Homo sapiens: one gene and its partner. The protein of the gene in region 1 purifies or fractionates together with the protein of each later gene. This does not show direct contact. Each region holds a gene or a part of one and is shown on either strand. Other genes may lie near its edges. The genes, in order: FADS1 and UQCC1.

The links.
Region 2: the proteins of FADS1 (region 1) and UQCC1 purify together in Homo sapiens (affinity purification with mass spectrometry; 2 studies listed by BioGRID and IntAct, with this or other methods). This does not show direct contact.

The regions. Positions count from the first base shown.
Region 1 is NC_000011.10:61,813,572-61,828,345, forward strand, and holds the start of FADS1 (acyl-CoA (8-3)-desaturase), read right to left. Parts: upstream 3,433-14,774; 5' UTR 3,359-3,432; coding exon 2,984-3,358; exon of another isoform or gene 2,856-2,983; coding exon of another isoform or gene 2,715-2,855; exon of another isoform or gene 2,632-2,714; intron 1,680-2,631; exon of another isoform or gene 1,665-1,679; coding exon of another isoform or gene 1,503-1,664; exon of another isoform or gene 1,286-1,502; intron 1-1,285.
Region 2 is NC_000020.11:35,404,612-35,420,163, reverse strand, and holds the start of UQCC1 (ubiquinol-cytochrome c reductase complex assembly factor 1), read left to right. Parts: upstream 1-8,190; 5' UTR 8,191-8,200; coding exon 8,201-8,224; exon of another isoform or gene 8,225-8,249; intron 8,250-9,871; exon of another isoform or gene 9,872-10,109; intron 10,110-15,552. UniProt on the Homo sapiens protein: Required for the assembly of the ubiquinol-cytochrome c reductase complex (mitochondrial respiratory chain complex III or cytochrome b-c1 complex). Involved in cytochrome b translation and/or stability.

The DNA of each region.
Region 1 (14,774 bases):
GAGGTAAAATGGACCAATCAGCACCCTGTAAAATGGACCAATCAGTGCTCTATAAAATGGACAAATCAGCAGGACATGGGCAGGGACAAATAAGGGAATAAAAGCTGCTCCCGGCCGGGCGCGGTGGCTCACGCCTGTAATCCCAGCACTTTGGGAGGCCAAGGCGGGTGGATCACGAGGTCAGGAGATCGAGACCATCCTGGCTAACACAGTGAAACCCCGTCTCTACTAAAAATACAAAAAATTAGCCGGGCGAGGTAGCGGGCGCCTGTAGTCCCAGCTACTCGGGAGGCTGAGGCAGGAGAATGGCGTGAACCCCGGGGGAGGGCGGAGCCTGCAGTGAGCCGAGATCGCGCCACTGCACTCCAGCCTGGGCGACAGGGAGACTCCGTCTCAAAAAAAAAAAAAAAAAAAAAGGCTGCTCCCCCTCACACCCCCCAACGTCCAGCAGCGGCAACCTGCTCGGGTACCCTTCCACGCTGTGGAAGCTTTGTTCTTTGCTCTTCACAATAAATCTTGCTGCTGCTCACTCTTTGGGTCCACGCCACCTGTAAGAGCTGTAACACTCACCGCGAAGGTTCATGGCTTCATTCTTGACGTCAGCGAGACCACGAGCCCACCTGAAGGAACCAACTCCTGACACAGAAGCACAGGCCATCTCCCTAGGCCCAGCTGCCTTTTGAGGGTGCTCCCAGGTGTCCACAGTTTAAGATCACCGAGTATCTGCTCTAGTTAGAAGGATGCATCAAGGAATGGGAAGCATTGGCTGAGGGGAACCACTAAGAAACACCTGCCTGGGCTGGCCTTTCCCCTGGGTGTGTCCACAGACAGCTTTTGCCCAAGAATTTCAGTATAGGTGAGAAACAGGAGAGATGGGTGGGGCTGTGTCGGGCGTTGGTTCCTTCCGGCGGGTATGGTCTCACTGACTTCAAGAATGGAGCCGTGGACCTTCCCGCTGTTATAGCTCTTAAAGGAATAACACTCTTTGCAGACCCAAAGAATGAGCAGCAGCAAGGTTTAGTGTGACGAGCAAAAGAACAATGCTTCCACAGCCTGTAAGGGAACTGGAGCGGGTTGCAGCAGCTGGCTGGGGTGGCCAGCTTTTATTGTCTTAGTTGTCCCTGCCCACGTCCTGCTGATTGGCTCATTTTACAAACCTCTAGCTAGCTACAGAGCGCCAATTGGTGCGTTTTTACAGAGCACTGATTGGTGCATTTTACAAACCTCTAGATACAGAAAAGTTCTCTAGGTCCCCATTCGACCCATCAACTCCAGCTGGCTTCACCTCTCAGGGCTATGAGACTTCCGTCCCTTCTTGCGGGTCTTTCAATAAGTCCCTTTCCTCTCTTAGCTAGGGTTCTCCAAAAACCACGAAGAGGAAGACTTCCCTACGTCCGAACTGGGGCACTTCTGCGTTTCTTCCCTTTCCCTCCACCGTTGTTCTGGGTAGGGCTCCACATTTCCCTAAGCACTCTGGCCACCCCCTGCCCCAAGGCAGCTACTTTGGGTTGTGCAAGGTAAGGTCCATGGCGATAAGATTCACGTTGGCAGGTCCGGCAGCCCCGGGCCCTGTAAGTGATGCGGCGTGTGGGGCGGGGGCCGGGGCGGAGCCGGCGGCCGGTGGCACCACACATACGGACCAATCGCCGTCCCCGCCGCGGCATTCCCGGCCCCAAATCACACTGCGGGAAGCTCCAGCGTTGGTGCCTGTTTCGTCTGCGCATGCGCCGGGACACGCCTGCGCCCTTGGCCGCAGTCAGGGCTCCCGAGTGGTCACTCTGGTTGACCCGCGCAAGCTCTGGCCTCGCCCACTAGGCTGGTCGCGTCAGAGGGTGGGGCGGGTCTTCGCCCCGCAGCGTCTAAGCTCTGCTGCGACGTTATGGGAACCTGGTGACCCGCGGCACACTCTGGGACGCCAGGGTAGTGGATAGGGACAGTGGAGGGCATCACGCTGCAGGGCACGGGATCAGAGGGGGATGCAAGGGGAGGGGACGCCATTCTGGCCGCCAAGGGGGAAACGCGGTGAAGGGAACGCCCCGACTTTCGAGTCCCTAGGACTGAGTCCCCAGGACTCCAACCCAGCAGAGAGGCGCCGGGGCCTTAGCTCTGAGGGCTGTGGTCTAGAAAGGGAAGCAGCAGGCCTGGGGCTGGGGCGCGCGCCGACCCCGCAGTGAGACCAAGGGAAGAAGGGACAGGACCCCGCGAAGGGCCTACCGCCCCAGAGCGTAAACAGCGGTCCGCTCCGCGGAATAGCTGAAGACCTCGCTGGCCTGCGGCTCAGTGGCCTCCCCGGCGATTCGAGAACAGCTCTGGGGGTCCTCGCTAAGTGTATGCCATTCCCAATCCCTTATGTACGCCAGCGGCCGCTTGCCCTCCCCGGCCAGCGCTGTCCCTTCCGCGTCCTCCAGTCTTCACACGACGCAGGGGTCCCCAAGGCAGCGGTCTCCCCAAGCTTCCCGTTTCAGCCCCATCCTCGAGAATGGGCTCCTTTCCTGCTCCCTCTCCGCTCCTGCTGGCGAGTGGAGACCGGCACCTAGGTCCAGACGCGGCTGCGCTGCCTCTCCTAGCCATCGAGACAGGATGTGACTCCCTCCCCTGGCCACTGACCCCCTCCCTCCCCAGGCGGCCTGCATCCTTGCTCTCCTCCCTCCTAGCCTACCCAGCTCGGGGTTCTGTCCCCGCCCAGAGACCTGAGGCTCGGGGCTGCAGATGGAATGCACGGCAGGGAGGCGGGACCCTTTGTTTGTGTGTGCGTGTTGTTGGCCTCCATCCCCACTCCCCAGACTCCACTTCTCCAGGCCTCTCTCCCGCCTTTTCATCCCGCATCCGCAGGACACCCAATCACCGGGCAACAGGTATGATCAGGCGCCTCCGGGCTTTCCTCCGAATTAGTCGGTGTTTGGCTCGGAGTGCGTAACTCTGTCTCCCCTGCACTCAGCCTCCGGTCCCGCCCTCTCCTGTGCCCCCGCCTGGCTGCGCTCACCGTGGCATCCTGCCCGGCGTAGTGGCTGATGACCCGGGAGCCCCCTGGATGCCGGCGGGTGAACTCGCTGATGTTGTACACCTTACGGTCGATCACTAGCCACCGCTCCTCGCACCCTGAGCGCTGGGCCACCTCGTCCCAGGTGAAGTAGCGCGGGGTAGGTCCCTGAGCCGCGGTCTCGGCGGCCACCGGGTCGGGGGCCATAGCTGGCCTGGCGACGCCGCGCGCCGGGCCAGCAGGGGCTGTCAGGCGCGTGCTCGGGGTCCGCGGGCTCCAGGAGTGGATTTGCTGGCGCGCGCCCAGAGCCAGCCGCCTGCGCGCCGGGTTTTCAGCACCGCAGGGCAGACCGGCGGGCCTCGCAGCGCGCGTTCCCATTGGCCGAGCCTCGTGGCGCGGGGAGCGAGATCCCGTCCCCCGGTGGGTCTTGGGCAACTCACAGCTGGGCTGCCAACACGCGCCCCCTCGCGGGCTCCCTAAAGGCGTCGCCGCCGGATTCGACTTCCTGACGTCAGGCGGGCATCGCGGCGTTGGCTCCCAGGGGGCGCCGCGGTAGGAACAGCGGTTCTAGTGCAGGCCCTGGGTGCGGGGCCGCGCTGCAGGAGTGAATGGACTGAGGGGCCAGGGCTGCGGGGTGGCCGCAGGAAGGGTGGGCGGGGCCGGGGTTGAGGTTTTTCCGTGCACGAGGCTGCCCGGGCGGTCGCGGACATCATCTTTAGGCTGTGGATGCCTTGGCCGGGGTCTCCAGACGCTGACCCTCCAGGGTTGGAAACTACTGCCTGCTTGCCACGTCGTGCCGCCAATTGTGCTGCCCGAAGTAGCAGCCTGAGAGCCCTTGAAAGTTGCAGTTATCTTGTGAACAGCATATTTACGGTCTCTTGGGCTTGGTGGTGGTTGGGGGAGGGCTGTTAATGCTTTAATTTGTTCAATGAAACATTTAAAATGCCCCACAATTTTTATAACCCTGTTTGCCTCTTTTTGTTTTTATTTTTATTGTATTTTGGAAAAATTCACTGGGATCCTTGAGTGATGATCCTAGCGTCTCCTGACCCTTAGGTGTTTCACCTGAAAAGCCTGGGTCTTCAAGCTGAGGCATTTCTGTTCTAGCCTGGAGGCGCCTAGGAGCCCTGGGAGACTTTTTAAGCAGAGAGATTTGGCATTTAGATCTCTGGGTTTTAGAGGAGTGGGAACGCACCTAAAAGTGGGGTTGCCAGTTACAAAGCTGTTGCAGTCCTGAAGAGACCCAGAGTTTAGGTCCAAAATTTTATTTATTCAACAAACACTTTATAAAGCACTTACTGTGTGCCAGGCACTGTTCTTAGCGTTTTGCAAACCTTAACTCATTTAATTCTCCTAACAACCCTATGAGGTTGGAACAATTAACCTAATTTACAGTGAAGAAACTGAGCCCGGGGGAGGTTATTTTGTCACACAGCTTGTAAGTGGAGGGCTGAGATTTGACCCTGGCCTGTGCTCTGAACTCTCAGGCTCTGCCATATTTCTCATTACACTGGTATTTGGGCACTTCAAAGGGAAAGGAAACATAACTGTCCCAAGCACTGAGCTAGATTCTGAGCACGTAGGAGTCAGGAGAGGGTGATACAGAATAGACTAGGTGAAATATGGCTAGATTTCTGGTAGAAAAGGATTAATTCATTCCATCCAAATTCTTCATTTTATAGATAAGAAAATTGAGGTTCGAAATGGGGAAGGGGCTTACCAAGTTCCCATAGGGAAGTTTAGATGTCCTGACTTCCAGGTAAGATGCCAGGCTATTGGACCCTGCTCAGGAATGATGGTCCACACAGCTGCACCTCTGTACAGCCAATATTCCTTTTTTAAAAACCTTGCCCAACAACTTGGCAGTGTCTAATGCGAGCTACAAAACATTTTCTATTCTTTGATCAAGCAGTTTCACTCTTGGTAAAGTAGGGGAGACTGTGCAAAGATGCAGAAATAGCCAATTTAATAGCAAAAACTGGAAATAAACCCGAGTCCTGACAATAAGAAAATCGCCAAGCTTATTGGGATCTGTTAACACAATGAAGAATTAAAGAATGATTTTAAATGGCTAGAATGTGAACTATATTGATAGATATAGAATCCTTCCCCGTGAAATAAGCAGAACCCAAAGTAGTATGGGTTCGCTGATTACAACTATATAAGAAATTCATGGGTATTAAATAACAGAAGAGAGGTCCTTTACATAAACCATTTTTCCTATGTGACTGTGCAGTGGGATAAAAGCTCTCATACTGCTGGTAGAAGTGTAAGTTGATTAAACTGGAAAAAATAGTTTGACAACTTATATAGAAATTTAAGATTTTTTTTTTTTTTGAGATGGAGTCTCGCTCTGTCGCCCAGGCTGGAGTGCAGTGGCCTGATCTCAGCTTGCTGCAAGCTCCACCTCCCAGGTTCATGGCATTCTCCTGCCTTAGCCTCCCAAGTAGCTGGGACTACAGGTGCCCGCCACCACGCCCAGCTAATTTTGTTTTTGTATTTTTAGTAGAGTTGGGGTTTCACCATGTTAGCCAGGATGGCTTTGATCTCCTGACCTCGTGATCTGCCCGCCTCGGCCTCCCAAAGTGCTGGGATTACAGGCGTGAGCCACCGCACCCGGCCAGAATTTAGGAATGTTTTGAATACTGAAGAGATGAAAAAAAATAGAAAAATAAAAATGTTCCCAATAATTCCATGTTTAGGAATATAGCCTAAGGAAATGTTCTTAGAAAAATATTTATAGGTCAGGCGGGGTGCCTCACGCCTATAATCCTAGCACTTTGGGAGGTCGAGGCAGGCGGATTGCCTGAGCTCAGGAGTTCAAGACCAGCCTGAACAAAAGAAATCGGCTGGGCGTGGCGGCGTGCGCCTGTAGTCCCAGCTACTCGGGAGGCTGAGGCAGGAGAATTGCTTGAATCCGGGAGGCAGAGGTTGCAGTGAGCCGAGATTGTGCCACTGCACTCCAGCCTGGGCAACAAAGCAAGATTCTATATCCACACACAAAAAAAGAAAACTATTTATAAACAAAAAATATTCATTAAAGCAGTATCTATGATAGCGGGAAATGGAAACACTCTAAATGCCCATCAGTGAAATATTTTGCAGACATTGAAAATAATGTCATCTTTCCTTTAATACAGAATCAAGGAAAAATGTTTTATGTAAATCTTTTATTTTATTATACTTTAAGTTTTAAGGTACATATGCACAACATGGAGGTTTGTTACATATGTATACATGTGCCATGTTGGTGTGCTGCACCCATTAACTCGTCATTTAGCATTAGGTATATCTCCTAATGCTATCCCTCCCCCCTCCCCCGAATCAAGGAAAATTAAATAATATGATGTAAGTTTGGCTACAGAGATAACTGTTCTATAAAAAGACTAGGTTGGGCGCGGTGGCTCACACCTGTAATCCCAGCACTTTGGGAGGCAGAGGCAGGTGGACCACCTGAGGCCAGGAGCTCGAGACCCACCTGGCCAACATGGTGAAACTCTGTCTCTACTAAAATACAAAAATTAGTGCCTGTAATCCCAGCTACTTGGGAGGCTGAGTCAGGAGAATCACCTGGGCAACATGGTGAGACTGCACCTCAGAAAAAACCAAAAAACCCATACCACTTGTAAGATAATTCCTTGATCAACCCCACCTACCTAGAACCATTCATTAAGTGTTTTATTTAACATTTGTGGGGTGTCTCCTCTTTGTATTCCCAGCACCTACTTTGGTAAGGTGCTGGGAATACAAAGTTCAGTACTATATGGGTCATGCCTAGTCATGTCTACTGGAGGAGAGAGACAAGTGAGTCACGGATTATAGGTCAGTAGGATAGATGCAAATTAAATTCATCTTACTCAGGATTTAAACAGCTTATATGACATGACTTTGCATTCATGTTTCTTTGCTTTTCATGTGTTCTTAGGTCAGTGTCATGTATTTTGCTACCTCCCTAACGAGCTTATAATCCAGGATAGGGCTGTGGATTCTGTTTATACTACCAATACATATTCAGAGCACCTTGGTTTGGAGTTCTAGGTGGAATCCCACATAAATTTGCTGAATTGGCCGGGCGTGGCAGCTCATGCCTGTAATCCCTGCACTTTGGGAGGGTGAGGAGGGCGGATCACCTGAGGTCAGGAGCTCCAGACCCACTTGGCCAACACGGTGAAACCCTGTCTCTACTAAAATACAAAAATTAGCCGGGTGTGGTGGGGGGTGCCTGTAATCCCAGCTACTTTGTGGGGGTGAGGCAGGAGAATCGCTTGAACCCAGGAGGCAAAGGTTGCAGTGAGCCGAGATTGCACCACTGCACTCCAGCCTGGGTGACAGAGCCAGACTCTGTCTCTAAATAAATAAATAAATAAAAAATTTGCTGAATCAACTGATGATTTCAACCTGAAAAAATACAGGTGAGTAAGCCTATAGGCCACTAGGCAAATGTCGTGTTGCCCTCTCATCTCCTTACCCACCTACACAGGTGGTCACACAGACTGCAATAAACCCATATCCAGGTCAACTAAAGGAAACCTTTGCCTTGCAGGCCCTGTTGATCCTAAGGGAACTTGCCTCATCCTGGATATGAATCACATACTTAATTTTAGGTTGCCACTTGTGAATACTAACTGTTCTGGCCAAATTAATCCTCAAGGAACAGAACGAAATGAGCTTAAGACCCTAATGCCAGGCCAGGCACAGTGACTCGTGCCTATAATCCCAGTGCTTTGGGAGGCTGAGGTGGGAGGATTACTTGAGCTCAGGAGTTGGAGACCAGCCTAGACAACATAGTGAGACCCCTTCCTAACTGTCCCACCATTTTCTCTCTAAAGAAAAGAAAAAAAAAGACCTTAATGCCGATTGTAATGAAGCCATAATTGAATAACCTAACTGCCAGTGGCTGTTGGAATAACCTGAATTGTGAGTTCAAATTTTGATCCATTTTAACAAAAGATCCTAAACATAATAGTTGGCCAATAGCCTGGATCCTTTACAAAGTCAACACATATAGGAGAAGCAATACCGGTTGTGCTCAGCCTCTGCTGCAGCCTCCCCTCAGTAGCAGCCCTTCAGGCCATTAAAGACCAAAACCATTTTTGAAAAATCTGGATTTCTGTGAAATTGGATAACTTATGGGGGTGCAGTGACTACAACACAGTAGGCACTAATAAAGTTGACAGAATCAGTCTTTGTTTTAAGAAAAGTCATCTGTAATAATTCTGCAGATTAATGTTAAGTAATATTAAAAATAATTTATGACATATAGTGCTTAAACTAAAGGGAGAATCCCAATCATACCTCTATTAGAGGCAGAGCGAGAGCTAGAAACAGGACTCTCATTTTGCTGCATTCTAAGAGTGTGGGAGATTGGGATGGGGCAGAGGCAGGCTCATGGAGGAATTCACGGGATTTCCTTAATGCAGTCTTTTTTTTTTTTTTGAGACAGAGTCTCGCTCTGTCACCCAGGCTGGAGTGCAGTGGTGCTGTCTTGGCTCACTGCAACCTCCGCCTCCAGGGCTCACGCCATTCTCCTGCCTCAGCCTCCTGAGTAGCTGGGACTACAGGCGTCTGCCACCACGCCTGGCTAATTTTTTGTATTTTCAGTAGAGACAAAGTTTCACCATGTTAGCCAGGATGGTCTCCATCTCCTGACTTGGTGATCCACCCGCCTCAGACTCCCAAAGTGCTGGGATTACAGGCGTGAGCCACCGCGCCCGGCCCAGTCTTCTTATCATTGTATAGAATATAGATGCCTTAGGGACAGATATATTAAACCCACTGTTTTATAGACAAGGTGACAGATCCAAAGAGCTGAAGCCACACATGAAATTTAGTATATTTGGGGCTAGAATTTACCCCAGAACTTATTTATAACTTTTAGTTCCTCTCTACATGAGTTCCTTAGCAGTGAGTTCAATAAATGTTTTGGTATAAGGCCACCCTGGTTCAAAGAGGAGAAGGCTGTTGTCCTTGCTTCTCTGCGGTGCCTTCTTCCTCCCAGGCCCTCAGACCTGCCTCTATTAAGTGGGAGAAGGGAGGCCTGGGTAGGTAGGTCCCAGATCTTCAGATTGCCCGGGGAATGGGTCTGGAGTCCTCTAGGCGTTGTTGTAAGCATTTTGCTGGGCCTTTAATGTAACTTTCCAGTACAAATGATCTCTCTTTAAAATAAAACAAAAAAGCTAAGCTTAAAATTTTATAATGAGAATATTTACTTCACTATAGTAAGTCATCATATATCTATAAACACACATATATATACTCCCAATATACTTAACTTTTTCCCTATTGTTGGACATTTGTGTAGAAGTTTCGCTTGTATAAATGTTGCGATGGATATTTTTGTATATAGATATTGGTTTCTATTTCTGAACATTTTCTTAGGATAAATTCTACATGTGTAATTAGTGGATCAGGTAATAACATTTTTAGTCTCTTGTCATTTGTTGCCAAATTACCAATTTACTGCTGAATTATTTCACAGGTATTCCTCGAGCACTTAGTATGCATTCCTTAGTTTTACTGCACTTCTTATCACCAGAACAGGAAAGGAATGGTGTCCTACAGCTCCTTGACCAAGTACCTCTCCACCAATACTATGAGCACTAAAGATGCAGCAACGAAGCACTAGACTCTGGGATGTGAAGATCTCAAATTCTATTCTCTGTGCACTTCAGAGTTGGAGAAGGATCCATCAAGTTTCAGTAGAATGTACCAAGGAAGGGAGGCAATGTGGTAGAATGGAAAGAATAAGGATTGTAGTTGAGACACCTGCAACCTGGACCTGCTAGTCCACCTACTGCTGTGTAATCTTGGACATTATGTCCACCTCTATGGGTTTCGGATCCCTTATCTGTAAAGTGAAGAGATTGTCCAGATGCTTTCCAGCACTAGCAATCTGTGCTTTAAAGTTTTACCTAACATACCATACCTTTTATCAATGTCCACCTAGAGATAATAACCCAGCTTATTTTATTTGAGTTTTGAGACAGGGTCTTGCTCTGTCTTGCACTCCAGCTGGAGTGCAGTGGCACGATCATGGATCACTGAAGTCTCCACCTCTGCGGTTCAAGCATTCCTCCCACCTCAGCCTCCCGAGTAGCTGGGACTATAGGCATGCACCACCACATCCAACTAATTTTTTATATTTTTGTACAGACAGGGTCTCACTGTGTTGCCCAGGCTGGTCTCAAACTCCTGGGCTCAAGTGATCCTCCCACCTTGGCCTCCCAAAGTGTTGGGATTACAGGTGTGAGCCACCACGCCTGGCCTAACCCAGTTTCTTAGATAGGGTCCCCAGCCTGTCATTTAAGGCATCTAAATTTGATGCACTTACTAAGTTGATGCCATTTTTGTTGTTGAAAATTATTCATTTTTTAAAAATAGTTATGACTTTCACCACATATTAATAAATCATTATCTAGTGAGCTTGGTTAAAGTTTGACCTCACCAATATTGCTAGTTAAGAAAATACATGTATGGCACTTTCACATACCTTGTGTCCTTTGAGCCTCGTTATTAAAATAGATGAGATAGGTTAGAAATCACTATCTCCGCTGGGTGCGGTGGCTTATGCCTGTAATCCCAGCACTTTGGGAGGCCGAGGTGGGCAGATCACCTGAGGTCGGGAGTTCGAGACCAACCTCACCAACATGGAGAAACCCTGTCTCTACTAAAAATACAAAATTAGCTGGGTGTGGTGGCACATGCCATGTAATCCCAGCTACTCGGGAGGCTGAGGCAGGAGAATCGCTTGAACCCGGGAGGCAGAGGTTGCAGTGAGCCAAGATTGCACCACTGCACTCCAGCCTGGGGGATAGAGTGAGACTCCATCTTGGGGGAAAAAAAAAGAGAGAGAGAGAGAGAGAGAGAGAGAGAGAGAGAGAGAGGGAGGGAGGGAGGGAGGGAGGGAGGGAGAGAGAGAGAGAGAGAGAGAGAGAGAGAGAAAGAAAGAAAGGAAAGAAAGAAAGAAAGAAAGAAAGAAAAATCACTGTCTCCTTTTTATCATGAGGAAACTGAAGGTCAGAGACAGAGGTCTAACATCACATGGTAGGTATGGGAAAGGAATACTGTAGCGGTCTGTAATTGCTTTTGGTTTGTGACTTCCCACAAAAAGGAACAGACCCTGTTCCCCAAAGCCCAGGTCTGCTGCTTGGCTTATGACCTACACCTAATAGAGTAACTCAGCCGTCTGATAACAGTGGCCCAATGGTTAGCATCTGATGCAGAGCCCATTAAACTGGAATTAATCCTTGGGAGCAGGGAATGGGGGAGAATTATTTCTGCTAGCGTAGCTTAGCAAATACAGCCATATTTTTTTGTCACATGGAGGAGACCCTTCTGCAGTAAGAGAGAATCAGGTGTTGGCCGGGTGCAGTGGCTCACGCCTGTAATCCCAGCACTTTGGGAGGCTGAGGTGGGCAGATCACGAGGTCAGAAGATCGAGACCATCATGGCCAACATGGTGAAACCCCATCTCTACTAAAAATACAAAAATTATCTGGGCATGGTGCCACCCACCACGGCCTCCTAAAGTGCTGGGATTATAGGCATAAGCCACTGCTCCCAGCCTAGGTGTTTCAAACATAACGTTAAAATAGAATTTTTAATTTTTCACCCCTGTACTAACTCTGTTCCCTCATCTTGGTAAATGGTCCCATTATCTATTCATTTGCTCAACTCAAATGCTAGAATCAGACTTATTTCTCTTATTCCTTCATCTCTACCATCACCCCTGCCCCTGTACCTCCAACTAATGCGGTCTTGATTCTACCTCCAAAGGATATTCTAGGCTGGGCAGGGTGGCTCACGCCTGTAATCCCAGCACTCTGGGAGGCTGAGGTGGGCAGATCACCTGAGGTCAGGAGTTTGAGACCAGCCTGGCCAACATGGTGAAACCCTGTCTCTACTAAAAATATAAAAATTAGCCGGGCATGGTGGCGGGTGCTTGTAATCCCAGCTACTCAGGAGGCTGAGGCAGTAGAACCATTTGAACCCATGAGGTGGAGGTTGCAGTGAGCTGAGATCGCACCACTGCACTCCAGCCTGGGCGACAGAGTGAGACCCTGTCTCAAAAAAAAAAAAAAAAGAAAGAAAAAGCCCTTTGGGAGGCCGAGGCAGGTGGATCACGAGGTCAGGAGATCGAGACCATCCTGGCTAACACGGTGAAACCCCGTCTCTACTAAAAATACAAAAAAATTAGCCGGGTGTGGTGGCAGGCGCCTGTAGTCCCAGCTACTCGGGAGGCTGAGGCAGGAGAATGGCGTGAACCTGGGAGGTGGAGCTTGCAGTGAGTAGAGATCGCACCACTGCACTCTAGCCTGGGCAACAGAGTGAGACTGCATCTCAAAAAAAAATTAGAGGGCAGGGAGGCACATGGCAGTGTCCAGTGTGGGGTCAGCCCCCTAAAGTTCTCTCTTAATTCAGGCCTCCCCTCCCCTCTCCTCGAGCACTGCCCTCATCTTTGAACTCATCACTGTTCCCCAGTTTCTCCCGTACATCCCAGTCCAGCCCCAGCCTCTGGAGTTATCTTTCTACACCATGGATCTGATCACAGTACACCTGCTTTACGGATGTCCAAGCCTCCTCCATGGTAAAGTCCTCCCTTCCTACCCCTTACTGAGGCTGCTGGGGCTTTTCTCAATTTGAGCCCCATCTACCGCCGGCCTCATTGGAGCCATTCTTTGAACTTCATTCATTCATTTGTGTCTTCAACACATGTTTTTATGTTTTTTCAGGACCTACCCTGGCTGGTACTGTGCTGGGAGCCGCTGGGGACCCCAGGCCCTGGCCGGTCCACGCTTCTCAGCCACCCTACACAGGCCACCCATACGTGCTCCCTTTTAGGGCCTGAACCTTCAAAGCCTCTGTGAGATACTCCCTGGTTCTGCCTTTCAGCTATCACTCCCTGCTCCGAGCTCCACACCCTTTACAAATGTTCATTAAAGTTATCTATATGGTATGTTAATCCATTTCTGAGAAAATAATTTTCTTGGTTCCATTTCCGTCAACGTTTGACAGTCCTCAAGGCCACCATACTCTCTGGAGGTCTTGCTTCATCCTCTTATTTTGTACAGAAGGCTTTTGTTTGGGATGTCTGCTCACACTCAAAGACAGAGAGGCCTTACTGTCTTTATGTCTGCAGTCTGTGGAGTGAATGAAGGATGCTCAGGGCTGACACCAGCATGAAATGTGATGGGAGAGGTTGGGGACTGTGTGAATGTGAGGAAAGGGAGCCCATCTGCCCCCCCAAGTACAACCCCACCAGTTGGGCAGAGTGATCCCCCCACCACCCCTGCATTGCTGTGAAATTTAGATTGGGCAGGGCCCGTTTGACCATCTCTCTCAATCTCAGGCTCTCCATTTTCAAGTGAGATGTAATAATATGCGTCCTGTTTACCTCTCAGCCTGTGATGAGAATCTAATGATTAGGGTGTGCTAGCACACAGGCACCTGTAAATCCCATTGAAATCTGAGGGCCCTATAACTCCTCTAGTGATTCCCAAGCCTCGTGCACCCCACCCTCTCTGTTCATCCTTACTTCCCACGTGTCCCGTTAGCCCTCCGGATGCAGTCAGGCCCATTTCCCCCAGGACGCCCGGCACTAAGCCGCCCCATCCAGCTGGGGTCTGAGGGGCCTGTCTCTTGCCCCACGCCTAAAAGACCTAACCCTCCTCCTATCCCTTCGATACGGCAGTCTTTATTTGCTGGAGTCTGCACAACATCACTGCCCAATGATGTGTCTGCTTCCACGATTCCCAAAGAGACTGAGCTTACTGAGACCAGGGCAAGGACCGCGCCAGTTCCTCATCGCCCCCTTCCTCTGCCTTCCCCTCCCTTCCCCCTCACCGCAGCCATGGCGCCCAGACCAAGAAAGCAGAGCAGAGGTTCCGCAATTCTTTTCTAAGATTGTCTGACTAGAGGGTTCAAAGCCCTCTAATCCAAGGCCGGCTTGTGTCTCTAGGGAGGTTGCAGAAAGGCGCCAGAATGTGGATGGCGCGGACAATGTGGGATACTGGAGTCTCGACTGCCGCGCGCCAAGGAAGGGCGTCACCTAGCCAAGCCGGCCCTGGAGTTGAGTGCCCCGCAGCCCGCCGGTCCACCCGCCCGGCCGCTTGCTGGCACCCTGGTGGCCGCGCCGGCTTTGTGTCGGCATCAGGTGCAAACCCCCAGAGCGCCGGGCGTGCGCGCACGCGCCCCGGAGCGCGCGGAGCCCATTCGTTGCCCCCACCGGGATCTCCTCTAGGATCTCCTCCGGCGCCCGGGGCCGGAGAGTGGGGGAGGGAGGAGGTCGGACACGTAGCCTGCCTCGCAGCAGGGCTCGACTCCACGCGGGAGGGCGGGGGAGCCGGGGACCCGCCGCTCCAGCCCGCTGGCCTTCGAAAGATCCTCCTGGGCCAATGGCAGGCGGGGCGACGCGACCGGATTGGTGCAGGCGCTCTGCTGATCGCTGTGGAAACTCGGGCGGCGGGGAACGCGGGAGGATGTGGAACCCGAGGCGGGGGGAGCCGGAGGGGCGGGCAGAGGAGGTGTCGAGGCCCTGAGCTCCCGGGGAGTTTTTACTGGAGGCAAAAGTCCATAGCGGGAGGGCTGAGGGAGGGGCGGAGGAAGGGGACCGCTTGGGGGCACTGGGAAGCCAGGGATCCTCCGCCAGGAAGGCAGGGACACTCCCGAGCGCAGGCGAGAAGGCTGGGGGAGGGGGCGCGGTGGGAGGAGTAGGAGAAGACAAAAGCCGAAAGCGAAGAGGGCCCGGGCTGCACACACCGGCTGGGAGGCAGCCGTCTGTGCAGCGAGCAGCCGG
Region 2 (15,552 bases), on another chromosome or scaffold:
AACAGTGGCAGAGATTGGAGTTATGCAGGTGCAAGGTAAGAAATGCCAGGGATTGTTGGCAATCTCCAGAAGCTAGAAAAGGCAAGGAAGCTTCCTCTCCTGGAACCTACAGATAGAGCGTGGCCCTGTCAACACCTTGATTTCAGACTTCCAGCCTCCATAACTACCAAACAATACATTTCCATTGCTTTAAGCCACCCACATAGTGGCACTTTTTTATGGCAGCCCTAACAATCTAATGTAGTTATAAATGGTGGTTTTGAAGAAGGTGGACAGAGTATAACTTAATAAAGGTTGAAAACCATATTTAGTGGTACCAATATAATATTTGCATGATTTTCTTCGATAGTACTCAAGAATCCGGAGGCAGGCATGGAATAAATAGACAATTGGAGGGTTGAGGTCTTTCTAGGTGGACGAGATAGGAAGACAATTGAGCAAGGGAGTTAATACTGGCAAGAGAGAAATTAAAACAATAGACCAGATGGGAACTAGATGGGAGAAGCAAAGAGGGGAGAGGGTCAATAGACTATAAAGAGAAGAGATAAAAAGTGTGGTGTCTCAATGGGGTAGAACAACAGGCGTACTAGGGGTAATGAATGAAAACCAGAATAATAGGATGGTGAGAACACAGAAGGCATAAATTAAAAATTTCAGAATTCAAACAATTCTGGTGTTGAGGTCTAAAATTGGCCATGGGAGTGGGTGGGGCAGCACACTTTATAGAAATGGAACAATCCAATATGTGGCCTCTTGTGACTGGTTTCTTTCATTTAATGTTTTTTGAGGGTCATTCATGTTGTAGCATGTATTAGTATTTCATTTCTTTTTATTGCTGCGTAATAATCCATTGTCTGGATATAGCATATTGTGGTTTTTTCATTTTTTTAGTTTTGCTCTTGTTGCCCAGGCTGGATTGGAGTGCAATGGCACGATCTCGGCTCATTGCAACCTCCACCTCCCGGGTTCAAGCAGTTTTCTTGCCTCAGCCTCCCAAGTAGCTGGGATTACAGGCGCCTGCCACCATGCCCGGCTAATTTTTTTGGTATTTTTAGTAGAGACAGGGTTTCGCCATGTTGGCCAGGCTGGTCTCGAACTCCTGACCTCGAGTGATCCCCCCCACCTCGGCCTCCCAAAGAGCTGGGATTACAGGCGTGAGCCACTGTGCCTGGCCACCATATTGTTTTTATCTATTCTTTGGTTGATGGATATTTGGGTTGCTTCTACTTTTCGGCTATTATGAATAATGCTGTGATGAACATTTGCAAACAAGTTTTTGTGTGGATATATATTTTCATTTCTCTTGGATATATACCTAGGAATGGAATGGCTGAATCATATAGTAACTGTATGTTTAAAATTCATAGAACAGCCAGACTGTTTTCCAAGAGTTTGCAGTGAGCTGAGATTGCTCCAGCCTGGGCGACAGAGCAAGAGTCTCTCTCAAAAAAAAAAAAATTTTTTTTTTCTTCATAGAGATGGGGTCTCACTATGTTGCCCAGACTGGTCTCAAACTCCTGGCCTCAAGGAATCCTCTTGCCTGGGCTGCCTGAGTTGCTGGGATTATGGGCATGAGCCACCATGCTTGGCCCAATTGTTTTATTTTAAATAAACGGCTGGGTTTCAATGTGGGGCCTATAAAGAAGTATGGGAATTCTGAGGGGTGAAGTCATTGTGAAGAGAAAGATGGGCAGAGGGAGCTTGGGGAGAACAGTGGAGATTGCTGGGGCTTCAGGCTGAGGGTTTGGGGTACAAGAAGTTGAGGAGCTCTGGCAGCGGAGGGAAGCCGAGCAGCACTGGGGAGCTGAGGTTAAGGAGAATGGGGAGTCCTCTGTGAGAGGACTATGGAATCTATGTGAGATAAAGTTGTCTATACTGCCAGCCCATTCCTAGAAAGTTCCTTCTACTTTCTGCATGAATGAAACCTGGCCTTCCCATTTGAATATTACTTCCCTTGTAGCCCTCTCTGGAATGTTGTCTGCCATCATTATATGCTCTGTTTGTGTTAAGACTGGGAGTTGACCAGGTACGGTGGATCACCCCTGTAATCCCAGCACTTTGGGAGGCAGAGGCGGGCAGATCACCTGAGGTCAGGAGTTCGAGACCAGCCTGACCAATATGGTGAAACCCCGCCTCTGCTAAAAATACAAAAATTAGGTGGGCTTGGTGGCGGGCGCCTGTAATCCCAGCTACTCAGGAGGCCGAGGCTGGAGAATCGCTTGAACCCAGGAGGCGGAGGTTGCAGTGAGCCGAGATTGCGCCATTGGACTCCAGCCTGGGTGACAGAGCAAGACTCCATCTCAAAAAACAAACAAACAAACCACAACAAAAACTGTTTCTTGATTTTTTATTTTAATTAATTAATGTATATATTTTTTGAGACAGGGTCTCACTTTGTCACCCAGGCTGGGGTACAGTGGCACGATCAGTGCTCACTGCAGCCTTGACCTCCCCAGGCTCAGGTGATCCTCCCATCTCAGCCTTCTGCGTAGCTGGGACCACAGGCATACACCACCACACCCAGCTAATTTTTCTGTGTTTTCAGTAGAGGCAGGGTTTTGCCATGTTACCCAGGCTGGTCTCAAACTCTTGGGCTCAAGAGATCTGCCCAGCCTGGCCTCCCAAAATGTTGGGATTACAGGTGTGAGCCACCGTACATGGCCCAAAGTCAACTTCTTAAATATGAATTAGGTAGCCCTCCCTACTTAATATCCTCCAATGGCTGCATACGGTGGCTCTCACATGTAGTCCCGGTTACTCAGGAGGCTGAGGCAGGAGGATCCCTTGAGCCCAGGAGTTCATGATCAGGTTGGGCAACATAGAGAGATCCTGTCTCTTAAAATATAATTCCTCTGGCCAGATGCGGTGGCTCACGCCTGTAATCCCAGCACTTTGGGAGGCCAAGGCGGGCGGATCACGAGGTCAGGAGTTCAAGAACAGCCTGGCCAATATGGTGAAATCCTGTCTCTACTAAAAATGCAAAAATTAGCCGGGCATGGTGATGCACAGCTGTAGTCCCAGCTATTCGGGAGGCTGAGGCAGAAGAATCACTTGAATCCGGGAGGCAGAGGTTGCAGTGAGCTGAGATTGCGCCACTGCACTCGAGCCTGGGCGACAGAGCGACCCCCGACCATACCCGGCTAATTTTTTGTATTTTTTTGTAGAGACAGAGTTTAGCCATGTTGCCTAGGCTGGTCTCGAACTCCTGGTCTCAGGTGATCCACCTGCCTCGGCCTCCCAAAAGTGTTGGGATTACAGGCATGAACCACTGCACCCGGCCTTAAAATGTACTGTTTTTTTTCCCCACCTCAAGACTCTTGTTCTGAAATCTTCTGTCCCTCTCCCACTTCCCAACATTTGCTGATAGAATAGCATTTGTACAGACACATAGACCAATAGAACAGAATAGAGACCCAAAATAAACCTATGCATTTACAGTCAATTGATTTTCAACAACGGTGCAAAGAACACACAATGGGTAAAGGGCAGTCTTTTTAATAAATGGTGTAGGGACAACTAGATATCCACATGCAGAATGAAATTAGACTCTCACCTCATACCATATACAAAAATCGAAGGTCGGGTGTTATGGCTCACACCTTTAATCCTAGCACTTTGAGAGGCTGAGATGAGAGGATTGCTCAAGCCCAGAAGATTGAGACCAGCCTGGGAAACATAGAGAGACCCCCGTACCCCATCTCTACTAAAAATAAAAAAATTAGCTAGGCATGGTGGCACATGCCTACGGACCCAGCTATTCAAGAGGCTGAGGAGGGAGGATCACTTAAGCCCAGGACTTTGAGGCTACAGTGAGCCTTGATTGCACCACTGCACTCCAGCCTGGGTGACAGAGCAAGACCCTGTCTCAAATAAAAATCAATTCCAAATAGATTTAAGCCTTAAACACAAGACCTCAAACTAAAATTACTAGAAGAAGAAAATATAGAGGAAAAGCTGCATGACCTGGGTCTGGGCAATAATTTTTTTAATATGACCCCAAAAGTACAGGCAAAAAGAGTGAAAATAGAGAAATAGTGTTATATGAAACTAAGAAACTTTTGCACAGCAAAGGAAACAATCAACGGAGTGAAGAGACAACGTATGGAATGGGAGAAAACATTTAAAAACCATATATCTGATGAGGGGTTAATACCCAAATTTTAAAATGGGCAAAAGATCTGAATAGACATTTCTCAAAAGAAGACATACAAATGGCCAACAAGTATATGAAAAAATGCTCAGCATCATTAATCATCAGGGAAATGCAATCTAAAGCCACAATGAGATATTACCTTGCACCTGTTCGAATGGCTACTATAACATTGTTCCTAAGGACGTGGAGAAAGGGAACCCTTGCACACTGTTGGTGGAATGTAAATTAGTACACCCATTATAGAAAACAGTATGGAGGTTCCTCAAACAATTAAAAACAGAACCACCATAGGATACAGCAGTCTCACTATTGGATATATATTCAAAGGAGATGAAATCAGTATGTTGAAGAGGCATCTATACTAACATGTTCATTGCAGTGGTATTCACAACAGCCAAGTATGGAATTAACCTAAGTGTCCATTAGTGATGAACAAATAAAGAAAATGTGGTGGCTGGGCGTGGTTGTTCACGCCTGTAATTCCAGCACTTTGGGAGGCCGAGGTGGGCAGATCATGAGGTCAGGAGACCGAGACCATCCTGACCAACATGGTGAAACCCGTCTCTACTAAAAATACAAAAATTAGCTGGGTGTAGTGGTGCACGCCTGTAATCCCTGCTACTCAGGAGGCTGAGGCAGGAGAATCGCTTGAACCTGGGAGGGGGAGGTTGCAGTGAGCTGAGATTGCATCACTGCACTCTAGCCTGGTGGCAGAGTGAGACTCCGTCTCAAAAAAAAAAAAAAAAAAAAAGAAAAAAGAAAGAAAGAAAGAAAGAAAATGTGGTTTATGACCAGGTACAGTGACTCATGCCTGTAATCCCAGTACTTTGGGAGGCAGAGGTGGGCAGATGACTTGAGGCCAGGAGTTCGAGACCAGCCTGGCCAGCATGGTGAAACCCTGTCTCTACTAAAAATACAAAAATTAGCCGGACATGGTGGCACGTGCCTGTAGTCCCAGCTACTTGGGAGACTGAGGCACAAGAATTGCTTGAACCCAGGAGGTACAGGCTGCAGTGAGCTGGGATTGTGTCACTGCACTCCACCCTGGGCGGCAGAGCAAGACTCTGTCTCAAAAAAAAAAAAAAGTGATTTATATATATAATGGAATGCTATTCAGCCTAAAAGAAGAAGGAAATGCTGGCCAGGTGCGGTGGCTCACACCTGTAATCCCAACACTTTGGGAAGCCAAGGTGGGCAGATCACCTGAGGTCGGGAGCTCAAGACCAGCCTGACCAACATGGAGAAACCCCATCTCTACTAAAAATAAAAATTAGCTGGGTGTGGTGGCACATGCCTGTAGTCCAGGCTACTTGGGAGGCTGAGGCAGGAGAATTGCTTGAACCCGGGAGGGAGAGGTTGCAGTGAGCCAAGATTGTGCCACTGCACTCCAGCCTGGGCAACAAGAGCAAGACTCTGTCTCAAGGAAAAAAAAAAGAAGGAAATGCTCATATCTATGACAACATGGATGAACTGGGAGGATGTTATGTTAAGAGAAATAAATGAGGCACAGAAAGACAAACACTGCTTGATTTCTCTCATATGTGGAATATAAGTTGAACACACAGAAGTAGAGAGTAGAATGGTGGTTACTAGAGGCTGAGGAGATGTTTGTCAAAGGATACAAAATTTCAGTTAAGAGAGATAAGTTCAGGAGGCCACTTTGGGAGGCCAAGGCAGGCGGATCACCTGAGGTCGGGAGTTCGAGACCAGCCTGACCAACATGGAGAAACCCCGTCTCTACTAAAATATAATATTAGCTGGGCGTGGTGGCGCATGCCTGTAATCCCAGCTACTCAGGAGGCTGAGGCAGGAGAATCACTTGAACCCGGGAGGCAGAGGTTGCAGTGAGCCAAGATCACGCCATTGCGCTCCAGCCTGGGCAACAAGAGTGAAACTCCGTCTCAAAAAAAAAAAGAAAAGATCTATTGTATAACATGGTGACTATACCCACTATGAATATGTATTGTATTCTTGAAAATTGCTTAAAGAACATATTTTAAACATTTCCAGCACAAAAATATGAGGTAATGCATATATTAATTAGCTTGACTTAGCCATTTCACAATGTATACATATTTTAAAACATCCTGGCCGGGGGCACGGTGGCTCACTCTTGTAATCCCAGCACTTTCGGAGGCCGATGTGGGTGGATCACCTGAGGTTAGGAGTTTGAGACCGTCCTAGCCGAAATGGCAAAACCCCGTCTCTACTGAAAACACAAAAATTAGCCAGGCGTGGTGGTGCGCATCTGTAATCCCAGCTACTTGGGAGTCTGAGGCAGGAGAATCGCTTGACTTGGGAGGTGGAGGTTGCAGTGAGCCGAGATTGAGCCACTGCACTCCAGCCTGGGCGACAAGAGTGAAACTCTGTCTCAAAAAAAAAAAAAAAAAGAAAAAAGAAAACATCCTGTTGTACACAATATATATTTTTTGTCAATTAATAAAAATCAATAAATTTAATTAAAAAAATAGTCGAGTGAAGTTATTTCCCATGACTAGCTCCTCTTCTTCCTTTAGATTTCATCTTACATGTCACTTTCTTGGAGAGGCCTTACCAACCTAACCAAAGTAGCTCCCCAGTTTTAATTTTTTTCACTGGGTTCCTATGCCTCCCCCACCAGTCTAAGAACTCCATGAAGCCAGTATGTCTTGTGTTCAGCACATAGGGAAGACTCAATAGGTCTTTGTTGACTGAATGAAATGAAAGAAGTCCTTCAACATCCTGCCCCTCTGCTCCCTCAACCCCCAAAGCACCAGTACTTTGTCTTCTCTTCTCTTGGGATGTAATGGAAGAGGAGTCTTCTACCAAGGCCGTTCTCTGCCACTTTCCTCAAGAAGCTCCTTGCCTCTTTGATTGATTCTCCTGTATACTCTTTTTTTTTTTTTTTTTTTGAGACGGAGTCTCGCTTTGTCACCCAGGCTGGAGTTCAGTGCCCCAGTCTCAGCTCACTGCAACCTCTGCCTCCCGGGTTCAAGCGATTCCCTGCCTCAGCCTCCCAAGTAGCTGGGATTACAGGCACACGCCACCATGCCCGGCTAATTTTTTTCGTATTTTCAGTAGAGACGGGGTTTCACCATATTGGTCAGGCTGGTCTTGAACTCCTGACCTCAGGCAATCCACCTGCCTCGGCCTCCCAAAGTGTTGGGATTACAGGCATGAGCCACCGGGCACGGCCCTGTATACTCTTCACTAATCTTTTCCTATCAATATGCAAAGATGTTTCCCTTAAACAACCAACCAACCACAAATCCCAAAAGTTTCTTCCTCTACCAGGCTTCAGATCGGCACATGACCGCCTTCTTGCCTTGACTTTCAGGAGTCTGGTATCCCCCGTATTCTTTTATCTTAGCCTCCTTCTCTGGCTTTTTTTTTTTTTTTTTTTTTTTTTTTTTTGAGACAGAGTCCAGTCCTGCTCTGTCGCCCAGGCTGGAGTGCAGTGGCGCGATCTCGGCTCACTGCAACCTCTGCCTTCAGAGTAGCTGGGATTACAGGCACACACCAACATGCCCGGCTACTTTCTTTGTATTTTTAGTTAGGGACGGGGTTTTGCCATGTTGGCCAGGCTAGTCTCGAACTCCTGATCTCAGGTGATCCGCCCGCCTCGGCCTCCCAAAGTGCTGGGATTACAGGCGTGAGCCACCGCGCCCGGTCTTCTGGCTCTTTCTAAAGATTGGGATTTCCTAAAGTCCTGTTCTTTTCAACCTCCATTGAAAAGTGTTGGGGTGGAGTTTGGGAAGGAGGGGCTGAGGAGTGAGGCTGGGTTAGGTGGGGAATAAAGAGAGGGATATGAGAAGCCCCGAGGTCTGGGGTCAAGGAGACAGGCGTGGGGGAAGGATTTGAACCACTGTTACGTGTAGTGGGGGAGACAGCAGGGAGAGCGTGCCCGGGCACGACAGCCTGGTGCACAGCCGAGAAAACAACAGCGCGTGCGCGTAGCGACCTCTTTGCGCCTGCGCCCCCCTTGCCAGTCTTTCGCCGGCAAAAGGAGGACGTAGAAAAGGGGACACCGGAAACTCACTCTTCACCCGGAAATGGTTATTGAGGAACATGGCGTTGCTGGTGCGAGTCCTTGTGAGTGAAGGAGTAATTTTCTACGGTAGCTCTCTGGGTCCCGGGTTGGAGTTCGACAAGGCAGGGCGGGAGGAATTGGAAGGAATCGCAGGAGGGAAGCCTGTGTTATAGCTAGGCTGAGTGGCCGCTTTTCCGTGGGGAAACTGAGGCAGCTTCCGACCTCTTCCTACCCCGTTTTGACCTTAGCTCCCCCATCTTTCGAGAAGGGGAAGACTGACATCTGGCCTTTATTTGATGGGGTTTACTTTTCCTTCCCTCCCCCATGTACCTGCTTCCCCTCAGGGAGAGGAGCATGTAGGACACTGATTGGAGTTTCAGGAGGCCTGGGTTCTAGTCCCTGACTGTCACTGATGCATAGTGACTTTAAGCAAGTCACTTTTGGGCCTCATTGACCCTATGTGAAAAACGAGGACATTTATCTCCTGCAGTCCCTTTAGATTCTGAGATTCTCAGGGTTTCTTTCATAGGTAATAAGTCAGTTCTTAACTGTACAGTTAAGTGGAATATAGATTATTAGATTGAAAGCTGCGTGAGAATTGGAGTCATGTCTGTCTCCGTCGTTTTCACTTTGCCTAGCATGGTGTCTGGCACATCATAGGTGTTAAATGATTACTTGTTGAATAAATGAATGAAGTAAGGAAAGACTACCAGACTCTTTAGCACCCGTGTGTGAAACTACTGCACCTCTTGAGATTTAGTCCTGACCCTTCTAGCATACTCTTTTCTCTAGCAATTAAAGGAGAAAAGAAAGTGGCAGCAGAAAAAACGTTAGGATACAGAGCTTAGTTTTTAATCATGGAGGGATGGGAGAGTGTATAGTTTTAGCGAGTCTTCAAAAACTGGGTCAAAGACACTGTTTTTCATAGTAGACATGGTCTATTCCTGTGTCTAGGTAACTTCTGAATTGTTATTTTACATTTGTGTTTTTGATCTTTTTATATATGTCTTACAAGGACGACAGTTTTACTTCTTGTATTCCTTGCCAGCCTAGCAGAGTGAGGTACCCTCGACTGCTGTTCAGTAAATATTTATTTGTAGAGTAGCCCCTGTAACTGCCAGAAAGATTCACCTGGTGAAGTGATTGTTTGATTTCAGGCCAGAAATTGATTCAGAAATGAGGACTGCTGGGGAAATGGCAATTAGAATGTTCTGAATTTAGTGGTTTTTTTTTTTTTTTTTTTTTTAATCCTTCCCCTGCCACCCTTTAGGGTTTTGTTTTTTTTTTTTTTTTTTTTGAGGCAGAGTCTTGCTCTGTCGCCGAAGCTGGAGTGCAGTGGTGCCATCTCGGGCTCACTGCAACTTCTGCTCCCGGGTTCAAGCAATTCTCCTGTGCCAGCCTCCCGAGTAGCTGGGATGACAGGCATGCACCACACCACACCTGACTAATTTTTGTATTTTTTTTTTTTTTGAGATGGAGTCTCGCTCTGTCACCCAGGGTGGAGTTCAGCGGTGTGATCTCGGCTCACTGCAACCTCTGCCTCCTGGGTTCAAGCAGTTCTCCTGCTTCAGCCTCCCAAGTAGCTGGGATTACAGGCGCCTGCCACCACACCTGGCTAACTTTTGTATTTTTAGTAGAGATGGAGTTTCACCATGTTGGCCAGACTGGTCTCGAACTCCTGACCTCATGATCCGCCTCCTGCGGCCTCCCAAAGTGCTGGGATAACAGGCATGAGCCACCGAGCCTGGCCTGACAACTATCATTTTATAGGGCACTTACTACGTGCTAAGCACTTTAAAATACTTACCTAATCCTTATAACATCCCTTTGGAAAGGAGGGCGTGTTATTTCCTCTATTTTACAGATAAGAAAACTGAACCACAGAGAGGTATTCCTGGCCAGGTGCCGTGGCTCACACCTGTAATCCCAGCACATTGGGAGGCTGAGGTAGGTGGATCACTTGAGGCCAGGAGTTCAAGACCAGCCTGGCCAACGTGGTGAAACCCTGTCTCTACTAAAAATACAAAAATTAGCCAGGCCTGGTGGTGGGCGCCTGTAATCCCAGCTACTCGTGAGGCTGAGACACGAGAATTGCTTCAACCCAGGAGGCGGAGGTTGCAGTGAGCTGAGATTGTGCCACTGCAGTCCAGCCTGGGTGAAAGAGTGAAACTCTGTCTGAAAAAAAAAAAGAAGTATTCCTGAAACATTCTTGTTAGTCTTGCTTTATTTTTTCCTCTTTTTGTCTTGTCAGCCAATATTTTCCCTTCTCCAGTGATGGTTTTGGGAAGGAGGAGGAAACTAAAACACTGCTATTGTTGAATGACTACAGCAGAGAGCCTGGACATTTGATCAGTGGAACTGGACATGCTTATGGTTTTTATGAGTTGTCCTGGGCATTGCTGATCATTTCTGCTTTTCTTTGGAAATAGTAAAAATTGCAGAAAGCCACCCTGTACTTTAGAAAATTAAAAAAAAGTTGTGGTAAAATACATGTAACAAAATTTACCTTTTAAACTTTTTTTTTTTTTTCTGAGACGGAGTTTTGCTCTTGTTGCGCAAGCTGGAGTGCAATGGCGTGATCTTGGCTCACTGCAACCTCTGCCTCCCGGGTTCAAGCGATTCTCCTGCCTCAGCCTCCTGAGTAGCTGGGATTACAGGCACGTGCCACTACGTTCAGCTAATTTTTTGTATTTTTAGTAGAAATGGGGTTTCACCATTTTAGCCAGGCTGATCTTGAATTCCTGACCTCAGGTGATCTGCCCGCCTTGGCCTCCCAAAGTGCTGGGATTACAGGCATGAGCCACTGTGCTTGGCCACCTTTGAAACTTTTTAAGTGTACAGTTCTGTGGTATTGAGTGCATTTACATTGTTGTGCCATCTTTACCACCCTTATCCACAGAATTATTTTCATTTTATAAAACTGAAACTCTGAACCTATTAATAACTCTCTATAGTCTTTTCTCCCCAGCCCCTGGCAGCCACCATTCTACTTTCTGTCTCCGTGAGTTTAACTACTTTGTGTACCTCATATAAGTGGAATCATACAGTATTTGACCTTTTGTGACTGGCTTATTTCATTTAGCGTAATGTCCTCAAGATTCATCCATGTTGTAGCATGTGTCAGAATTTTCTCTTTTTTTTTTTTTGGAGATAGGGTCTCGCTCTGTCATGCGTGCTGAAGTGTAGTGGCTCAATCATAGCTCACTGCAGCCTTGACCTCCTGGGCTCAAGTGATCCTCCCACTTCAGCCTCCTGAGTAGCTGGGACCACAGGCATGTGCCACCACGCCTGGCTACTTTTTTTTTTCTTTTTTGTAGAGATGGGGTCTCCTTATGTTGCCCAGGCTGGCCTTGAACTCCTGGGCTCAAGCAATCCATTGTCTCGGTCTCCCAAAGTGCTGGGACTACAGGCGTGAGCCACTATGTCCAGCCTGTTTAATTTGTTGAGGAATTGTCCTACTGTTTTCCACAGCAGATACACTGTTTTACATTCTCACTAGCAGTGCACAAGGGTTCCAGTTTCACCACATCCTTGCCAACACTTGTTATTTTCTGGTTTTTGTTTGTTTGTTTTTGAGACAAGGTCTTGCTGTGTCATGCAGGCTGGAGTGCAGTGGCCCAATGACAGCTTACTGCAGCCTCCACTTCTGGGCTCAAGTAATCCTCTCATCTTAGCCTCCCGAGTAGCTGGGACTACAGGTGTGTGCCAACACACCCAGCTAGTTTTTAAATTTTTAGTAGAGAGGAGTTCTTGCTATGTTGCCCAGGCTGGTCTCAAATTCCTGAGTTTAAGTGATACTCCTGCCTCAGCCTCTCGAAGTGTTAGGATTACAGGTGTGAACCACCACACGTGGCCTTATATTCTGTTTTTTGACAATTGCCATTCTAATGAGTATGAAATGGTGTCTCATTGTATTATTGATTTACATTTCTCTAGTGACTAGTGATATTGGGCACTTCTTCATGTCTTTTTTCTTTTTGAGACAGAGTTTCACGCGTGTTGCCCAGGCTGGAGTGCAATGGCATGATCTCGGCTCACCGCAACCTCTGCCTCCTGAGTTCAAGTGATTCTCCCGCCTCAGCCTCCCAAGTAGCTGGGATTAGAGACCTGCACCACCACACCTGGCTAATTTTGTATTTTTAGTAGAGATGGGGTTTCCCCATGTTGGTCAGGATGGTCTCAAACTCCCAACCTCAGGTGATCCGCCTGCCTCGGCCTCCCAAAATCCTGGGATTACAGGCGTGAGCCACCACGCCCAGCCTTAAATTTTGTATTTTTAGTAGAGATGGGGTTTTGCTATGTTGGCCAGGCGGGTCTTGAACTCCTGACCTCAGGTGATCCACCCGCCTTGGCCTCCCGAAGTGCAAGGATTACAGGCATGAGCCACTGCATCTGGCAAGTTTTTCATATATTTTGAATATCAATCCCTCATCAGATATATGATTTGCATGTATTTTTCCTATCCTATGGGTTGCTGTTTCAGTCTGTTGATACTATTCTTTGATACACAAAAGTTTTAAATTTTCATGAAGTCCAACTTATTTTTTTTTCTTTTATTGCCCACTCTTTTTTTTTTGACAGGGTCTTGCACTGTCACCCAGGCTAGAGTGCAGTGGCACAATCTAGACTCACTGCAGCCCCTGCCTCCCAGGTTCAAGCAATTCTCCTGCCTCACCCTCCCAAGTAGCTGGGATTACAGTCATGCACCAGCACACCTGGCTAATTTTTATGTTTTTAATAGAGAGGGGGTTTTCCCATGTTGGCCAGGCTGGTCTCAAACTCCTGGCCTCAAGTGATCCGCCCACCTCAGCCTCCCAGAGTGCTGGGGTTACAGGTGTGAGCCACCATGCCTGGCCTATTGCCTACTTTTTTGATATCATGTCCAAGAAATCATTGCAAAATCCAATGTCATGAAGCCATTCCCGTAAGTTTTCTTTTGAAAGTTGTATCATTTTAGGTCCTACATTTTGGTCTTTTATCCATTTTGAGCTAATTTGTGTACATGTTACAAGCTTTTACTATATTTTATGAGCTGTTTTCTTAGTGGCTGCCCTGGGATTACAATGAACATCTTAATTCATAACAGTCTTGTTTGGATTAATACGAACTTCATTTCAGTAATATGTAAAGACTTTCTTTCTATATAGCTCTGTTCCTTCCCGAACATTGTGTTATTGTCATCTAAATTACATCTTTATGCATTATATGTCTACCAATGTAGATTTATAATTATTTCTTCTTGTAGTTGTCTTTTAAATTAAAAAGAAAAAGAATTACAAACAAAAAATCCATTTGTACTGTATTTTTTATTTACCTAAACAGTTACCTTTACCAGTCTACTTTATTTCTTCATGTAGATTTGAGTTATTCTGTAGTTTCCTTTCATTTCAACCTGAAGGTCTGCCTTATTCTTGCAGGGCAAGTCTACTACTGACAAATTCTTTCCATTTTGTTTATCTGGGAAATCTTCATTTTTTCCTTCACTTTTGAATAATAGTTTTGCTGGATATAGAATTCTTGTTTGAAAATCTTTGTCTTTCCTTGTTTTGACTATTTTATCCCACTGCCTTCTGGCTGCTACAGTTTCTGAGAAGAAATCCACTGTTAATGTTCTTGAGGATACTTTGTATATGATGAGTTTCTTCTCTTGCTCATTTAAAGAATCTTTGTCTCTTGGCAGCTTGCATATGATGTGTCTGTGGCTCTCTTTGTGTTTATCCTATTTGGAGTTAGTAGAGCTTCTTGGATTCCTAAATTACCATTTTCCATTATGTTTGGGATGTTTTCTGCCATTATTTCTTCAAATATTTTTCGGTCCTTTTCTTTCCTTCTGAGACTCTAATTATACATATATTGGTGTGTTTGATGGTGTCCCACAGTCTGAGGCTGTTAAATTTGTTCTTTTTTTTCTTTTTTTGTTTTTGCTTTTCATTTTGAGGCTACTAATTTGTCTTTATTGCTTTTTCTTTCTGTTCCTTGGACTGGATGATCTAAATTGACCTATCTTCAAGACCACTGATTATTTTCTTCTGCCTGTTCAAATCTGCTGTTCAGTCCCTCTAATGAGTTTTTCATTTTAGTTGTTGGACTTTTCAATTCTAGAATTTATTTTGTCTTTAAAAAAATAACTTCTCTTTCTGTTGATATTCTCTTTGGTGCCATCTTGGCTCACTGCAACCTCCACCTCCCGGGTTCAAGCGATTCTCCCGCCTCAGCCTTCTGAGTAGCTGGGATTACAGGTGCCTGCCACCACGCCCGGCTAATTTTTGTATTTTTAGTAGAGATGGGGTTTCACCATGTTGGCCAGGATGGTCTCAAACTCCTGACCTCAGGTGATCCCCCTGCCTTGGCCTCCCAAAGTGCTGGGATTACAGGTGTAAGCCACCGCACCCGGCCACTTTCTTATAGTTCTTTAGACATATTTTCATTTAGATCTTTGAACATATTTGAAATAGTTAAAAATCTCTTTGTCTGCTGCCTGGGTTTTCTTAGAGACAGTTTCTATTGATTGCATTTTTTCCCCCTGTGTATGGGCCATACTTTATTGTTTCTTTGCATGTTTTATAACTTTTTGTTGTTGAAAACTGGACATTTTAAATAATGTGGCCACTCCGGAAATCAGATTGTTTCCCTTCCCAGGGTTTGCTGTTGTATTTTTGTTTAGTGACTTTTCTGAATTGATTCTGTAGTCTGTATTCTTTGTTGTTTGTGGCTACTGAAGTCTCTGCTTAGATAGCTTAGTGGTCAGGTAATGATTAAACAAATTTCTTTAAATTTCTGTTAAATTTCTTAAAATTCTGTTCTCACTGCCTGGAAGCAGTGAGTATCCCAGTTTTTGCTTTGGGGCTCTGTGTGCACGTTGGGATGTACCTATAACACTCTGCCAGGCATTCGATAACTCTGCCTTAACTTTCACTTCCTGCTATGCAGAACCTCAAGGTCAACCACAAGTAAGAGACATTCTTAGGTCTTTCCTGAGCATGTGCACAGCTTTGGGTATATGCACAGACCTGGGTATGTTCATGGCTTCCTAGATGCCCAGGAATATATTGGGGCTTTTCTAAGCCTCTGTGGACATCTTATTCCCCAGCTTTTCCTTTAAACCTTTTTGGTTAGCCTGTTGTTTTCTCCACCTGTTAATCACTGCCTCAGGAAGCCATGAAGTCAAACAGTTACCTCTATTTGTTTTCAACCGGTGCTCCTGGGGAAAAGGTTTTTTCACACTGGGTGAGTTCTAAGACAGCCTTGAAATAGGGCCTTCTAAGGAACTGTCAGACAGGTTGAATAATGCCAGTTCTTTTTTTTTTTTTTTTTCAGAGTCAAGCTTCTTTTTTTTTTATACTTTAAGTTCTAGGGTACATGTGCACAACGTGCAGGTTTGTTACATATG